2 linked regions of the Homo sapiens genome follow. The protein of the gene in region 1 interacts with the protein of each later gene in a pairwise test. Each region holds a gene or a part of one and is shown in the gene's direction. Other genes may lie near its edges. The genes, in order: ASRGL1 and TAB1.

The links.
Region 2: the proteins of ASRGL1 (region 1) and TAB1 interact in a two-hybrid assay, tested with the Homo sapiens proteins (one large-scale study listed by BioGRID and IntAct).

The regions. Positions count from the first base shown.
Region 1 is NC_000011.10:62,391,416-62,393,972, forward strand, and holds the end of ASRGL1 (isoaspartyl peptidase/L-asparaginase), read left to right. Parts: intron 1-84; coding exon of another isoform or gene 85-106; coding exon 107-217; exon of another isoform or gene 218-218; intron 219-663; coding exon 664-869; 3' UTR 870-1,997; downstream 1,998-2,557. UniProt on the Homo sapiens protein: Has both L-asparaginase and beta-aspartyl peptidase activity. May be involved in the production of L-aspartate, which can act as an excitatory neurotransmitter in some brain regions. Is highly active with L-Asp beta-methyl ester.
Region 2 is NC_000022.11:39,423,599-39,427,422, forward strand, and holds part of TAB1 (TGF-beta-activated kinase 1 and MAP3K7-binding protein 1), read left to right. Parts: intron 1-3,104; coding exon 3,105-3,327; intron 3,328-3,824. UniProt on the Homo sapiens protein: Key adapter protein that plays an essential role in JNK and NF-kappa-B activation and proinflammatory cytokines production in response to stimulation with TLRs and cytokines.

The DNA.
Region 1 (2,557 bases):
TACTTGAGCACCCTTCGCGATTTAACTTTCATGTAGCGTCCGACTTCTAATATGGATTTGAATTTCTTGACTGTTACTGCTCAGAACAATCACCCTTTTTGAGCAGGAGCTGGAGGTTATGCCGACAATGACATCGGAGCCGTCTCAACCACAGGGCATGGGGAAAGCATCCTGAAGGTGAACCTGGCTAGACTCACCCTGTTCCACATAGAACAAGGTACACAGACCACAGGACAAGTAAAATAATTTGTGAAGATAAGTGCATAGAAGGTATTTGATAAGTAAGCGCATGGAGAAGTGTAGGAAACCCTTTCCTGTTGGCTACAGATGTTGCTTTCAGGCCGTTAACACCTTGTTTTGACTCTCCGCCTTCCCTTAGGTCTGGAATGGTAGAGCATTGAGTACTGTTATCTTCCACATCTCAGGAGAAGGGGGCAGTAGAGAGACATTGAGCCTGGATGTGGGAGGGAAGACCCCTCTGCTCAGGCTGATGCTAGGGCGCTGTCTCAGGGCAAGGAGGTGAGGACCCTCCTTTTAAGCATTCAGGCGTTCATTTACCAAAAATCCTTGCTAGCTCACTTTGGCATTTCAAATGGCAAGTGATTTTCCCATGAGATTCCTTTCAGTAATGTGTGTTGTTTCTCAACCCTTCCTTGTTTTCAGGAAAGACGGTAGAAGAGGCTGCGGACCTATCGTTGGGTTATATGAAGTCAAGGGTTAAAGGTTTAGGTGGCCTCATCGTGGTTAGCAAAACAGGAGACTGGGTGGCAAAGTGGACCTCCACCTCCATGCCCTGGGCAGCCGCCAAGGACGGCAAGCTGCACTTCGGAATTGATCCTGACGATACTACTATCACCGACCTTCCCTAAGCCGCTGGAAGATTGTATTCCAGATGCTAGCTTAGAGGTCAAGTACAGTCTCCTCATGAGACATAGCCTAATCAATTAGATCTAGAATTGGAAAAATTGTCCCGTCTGTCACTTGTTTTGTTGCCTTAATAAGCATCTGAATGTTTGGTTGTGGGGCGGGTTCTGAAGCGATGAGAGAAATGCCCGTATTAGGAGGATTACTTGAGCCCAGGAGGTCAAAGCTGAGGTGAGCCATGATTACTCCACTGCACTCCAGCCTGGGCAACAGAGCCAGGCCCTGTATCAAAAAAAAAAAAAAAAAGAAAAGGGAAAAAAGAAAGAAAGCAGCAGCATGATCCTGACATGACAGATGTGGGAGACCCACAGCCTGCAGACACTGTGGGCTGGAAGGTGGGAAGGGAGGGGCCGGTGGAGGTGGAGCTGTTTGAAAGTGACACAGCAGCAGTAGAAGCAGTGGTGGGCGAAGCCCAGGTGACCCTCAGAACGTTGCACAAGAACATCAGGGAAAAGAACCAGAATCCTTTAAGGAAAATGTTCTTCATGTATGAGAGACTAAAGTGATTTTTCTAAGAAAGTTCAGCCCTTCTCTGACTTACCTGGACATTTCTAGATACTTCCAAAGGACCCTCTGGGAATCCATAGCTTCCTAATCTGGAGATGGGAGGTCATAAGGGAGACGCTGTGGGGTTCCTTGAAGTTTCTTGGGTTCACAGAGGAGCCCCCTCACTTGGTGTTCTCCCGTGAGCCAGCCTCCACCTGCCAAAGACACTCTGGTCCTCGTATAGTGAGTAATGGGGCTCAGGGCCTCTCCAACAACAGAGAGGAGCTGATGCTGTAGGGCTGACCCCGTGACTTCCTGAGTCCTCACCCTGTCCAGTGCTTTGAGATTCTTCCCACCTCCCCATCCTCACCAGCCGGATCGGGCGCTGTGCAGTGTGGTCAGCATGGTGAAGAAAGTCATTTCCTCGGTGGGCAGTATTCCTCTTTATCTCTCATTACACTGGAAATGTTATTTCTGCTGTATCATCCGTGCTCAACGTTTTAGTCTGTCAGGCTCACCTTCTCTCTGGAAAGAATTTGCTTAACTTGACATTCCATGTGCCGCTAATAAAATATATTTTGAAAGAATAAGGGTGTGGTTGGGAGTCACTGTTGACAAAGACCAGAATGTACACGAGCTCCCCCCTTGGTCTCAGGTGTACTACAGAGACCTCGAGATGAGGATGGTGTGGAGGGTGATATGTGCCACCTTGTGGAGTACTCGTGAGTTTTTCAGAAGAACTGAACTTTTTCTGAGTGGGTCAAGGAAGAAGCCAAACCATGATAGGGTTTATGGCGCAGTCTTCCTGCAGTTTGCCAGCATTCACCCCAGACAGAGGTGCACAGTAAAAACCTCAACATGCAACAACTCCCCCTTTAGAAACAAGTATTTTATTAGGAGGTGTATTAGTTGAAGATTGCCACAACACGATTCCACAGACTAAGTGACTTAACCAACAGAAATTTATTAATATTTTCTCAGCTCTGGAGGCTAAAAGTCCAAGATCAAGGTGTCGGCCACGTTGGTGTCTCCCGAGGCCTCTCTCCATGGCTTGTGTAATAGCTGGCCATCTTCTCACTGTGTCCTCACATGGTCTTTCCTCTGTACGTGCACAGCCCTGCCATCTGTCTCTATATGTCCTAATCCC
Region 2 (3,824 bases), on another chromosome or scaffold:
TGTCTCAATCAATCAATCAATATCATGAGGAAAAAGTCTTCTTTAAAATTTGAAAATTAATTTTTATTTCAGTAGCTTTTGAGGTACCAGTATTTTTTTGTTATAGGGATGAATTATGTAGTGGTGAATTCTGAGATCTTAGTAAACCAGTTATTCCAGTAGTGTACATTGTAAGTAATGTATAGTGTTTTATAGTGTACATTGTAACTAATGTATAGTGTTTTATAGTGTACATTGTAACTAATGTATAGTGTTTTATAGTGTACATTGTAACTAATGTATAGTGTTTTATAGTGTACATTGTAACTAATGTATAGTGTTTTATAGTGTACGTTGTAACTAATGTATAGTGTTTTATAGTGTACATTGTAACTAATGTATAGTGTTTTATCCCTAGCACCACTGCCATCCTCCCGCCTTGAGTCTCTAAAGTTCCATTATATCACTCTGTATGCCTGTGCATTCCCATCATTTAGCTCCCACTTACGAGTGAGAACATAGTTTGTGGTTTTCCACTCCTGTGTTACTTAGAATAATGGCCTTCATCTCCATCCAAGTTGCTGCAAAAGACATTCATTCTTTCCTTTTACTGGCTGAGTAGTATTCCATAGTTTATAGATACATTTTCTTTATCTGCTCATTAGTCAATGGCCACTTAGGCTGGTTCCACATCTTTGCAATTGTGAATTGTGCTGCTATAAACATACGTGTGCAAGTATCTTTTTCATATAATGACTTATTTTCCTTTAGGTAGATGCCCAGACTGCTGGATTGAATGCAGATCTACTTCGAAAAAGTCTCAAGTGCCTAACTATCCCCTGTTCCCTGTGTTCTGATTTCTTTTTTTTTTTTTTTTTTTTTTTTGAGATGGAGTCTTGCTCTGTTGGCCAAGCTGGAGTGCAGTGGTGCAATCTCGGCTCACTGTAACCTCCACCTCCCGGGTTCAAGTCATTCTTCTGCCTCAGCCTCCTGAGTAGCTGGGACTACAGGCATGTGCCACCACCACACCCGGCTAATTTTTGTATTTTTAGTAGAGATGGGGTTTTGCCTTTTTGGCCAGGCTTATCTTGAACTCGTAACCTCAGATGATCCACCTGCCTTGGCCTCCCAAAGTTCTGGGATTATAGACATGAGCCACTGCGCCCAGCCTGTGTTCTGATTTCTTTACCTGTTATATAAGCTTACCATTCCTTCCAGTAGCCTTATAACATAGAGGGACAGGGGCTTATTTCCAGGTAGAGTAGGGAATTTGGGGTCCACGGAGTTCAGGTTCTTGCCAGAAGTGACGTTGCTGCTTAGTGTTGAAACTGAGCCCACCAGGACCAGGTGCAGGTCATTTCCTATTACCTGTCCCTGCCCTCCTGCCCCGCCCAAAAGAAACTTTATGATGGTGAGAAAGTGATACATATTCAGTGGGAACTGTGCTCCCATACCCCTACAACCATTCTGTTTTTCACTGTCAAAACAGTACTCAATAAATTACATGAGATTCGGCTGGGCGTGGTGGCTCACGCCTGTAATCCCAGCACTTTGGGAGGCTGAGGCGGGAAGATCACTTTAGGTCAGGAGATCGAGACCATCCTGGCTAATACGGTGAAACCCCATCTCTACTAAAAATACAAAAAAAAAAAAAAATTATCTGGTGCATAGTGACGCACGCCTGTAATCCTAGCTACTCGGGAGGCTGAGGCGGGAGAATTCTTGAACCTGGGAGATGGAACTTGCAGTGAGCTGAGATCACAGCACTGCACTCCAGCCTGGTCAACACAGTGAGACTCTGTCTCAAAAAAAAAAAAATTACATGGGATTCAACATTTTCTTATATAATAATGAAAATAGGCTTTGTGCTAGATGATTTTGCCCAGCCGTAGGCTAATAGAAGTGTTCTGAGCACATTTAAGGTAGGCTAGGCTAAGTGATGATGTTCAGTAGATTAGGTGCATTAAATGCTTTTTCTTTTCTTTTTTTTTTTTTGAGATGGAGTCTCGCTCTGTCACCCAGGCTGGAGTGCAGTGGCTCGATCTGGGCTTACTGATCACCTCCCGGGTTCACGCCATTCTGCCTCAGCCTCCCGAGTAGCTGGGACTACAGGCACCCGCCACCACGCCCGGCTAATTTTTTGTATTTTTAGTAGAGATGGGGTTTCACCGTATTAGCCAGGATGGTCTCGATCTCCTGACCTCATGATCGGCCTGCCTCAGAATCCCAAAGTGCTGAGATTACAGGTGTGAGCCACCACGCCCGGCCAAATGCTTTTTCAACTTACGATATTTTCTTTTTTTTTTTTTTTTTGAGACAGAGTCTTGCCCTGTTGGCCAGGCTGGTCTCGGCTCCCTGCAACCTCCGTCTCCTGGGCTCAAGCAATTCTCCTGCCTCAGCCTCTCAAGTTGCTGGGATTACAGGCATGTGCCACCATGCCCAGCTAATTTTTGTATTTTTAAGTAGAGACGGGGTTTCAACATGTTGGCCAAGCTGGTCTCGATCTCCTGACCTCTGGCAGTCCTCCCACCTCAGCCTCCCAAAGTGCTGGGATTACAGGCGCAAGCCACTGTGCCCGGTCAACTTATGATATTTTCAACTTACAGTGGGTTTGTCAGGACATAGTCCCATCCTAAATTGAGGAACATCTGTATACTAGACAGGGACTTCTCTGAGGTCAGGGACCCTGTTTTCATTCTGTATCCCCAGTTCCTGACAAAATCCTAGCATGTATAACATCGCCTACAACAAGTTTGTTCCAGGAAAGAGTGTTTCATAATAATGACACTTGCTACTAGGCTTTTTAGTGGCTGGCAGAGTGCTCTCACACCACTGTTAGTTAATACTCGTATTCACCCAGTCAAATGGATGTTCTCCCCATCCTAGAGGTGTGCACCCAACAATTAGAGCAATCACAAGAGCACACACTTCCTAATGAGAAAGTTCCAGAAGGATTATCCTGAATACCTTGAAAGGCTCAGATTGCAAACTTGGCTGGCAGGCATTTCCTTCACCTGCTGGGCTGTTGACCACTGAATCTCCTGATTTTAGGCTCCAAGATTATGGCCCATGCCCCCCAGGCCGCACCTCGTTCCTTACCAGGTTCTTCCTACCCCCTCCCCCAGGAGATTGCTGCGATGATTGACACTGAGTTTGCCAAGCAGACCTCCCTGGACGCAGTGGCCCAGGCCGTCGTGGACCGGGTGAAGCGCATCCACAGCGACACCTTCGCCAGTGGTGGGGAGCGTGCCAGGTTCTGCCCCCGGCACGAGGACATGACCCTGCTAGTGAGGAACTTTGGCTACCCGCTGGGCGAAATGAGCCAGCCCACACCGAGCCCAGCCCCAGGTACGTGTGCTGTGCAGACAGGCAGTGCCTGGGGATGCCATCTGGGGGCCAGAGGTGGGTGCAGAGCCCCCGAGGCTGCTTGAAACGGAGATGGAGTCAGGAGGCCTGGCTCTGAGTGGCTCTAATTCAGGTTCTCTGATTTTTAGCCTCTCTGAGCTGAGTGTTGATTTTTGCTCTTTTGTCTGTAAAATGAGGTTAATACCACCTGCCCCGGCAACCTCCCAGAACCTGAGTGCCCCAGCAAGCAATTCACAGAGCCCTGAAGCCACATAATAGAGATGATGGCCACCACTGATTGAGTGCCTCCCTTGTGCCAGGCACACAGCCTGCCTTATTCCCTTCAGTCCTCATGGGCAACCCTAAAGACAGGTGGTACCCCTGTTTTCCAGAGAGGGAAACTGAGGCTGAAGAATGAAGGGACCTGGAAGAGATTAGGCATGTGGACAGATGGTCAGGCCCCAAGGCCTGTCTGTCCCTGGGCTGCACTGGAGCAGGGC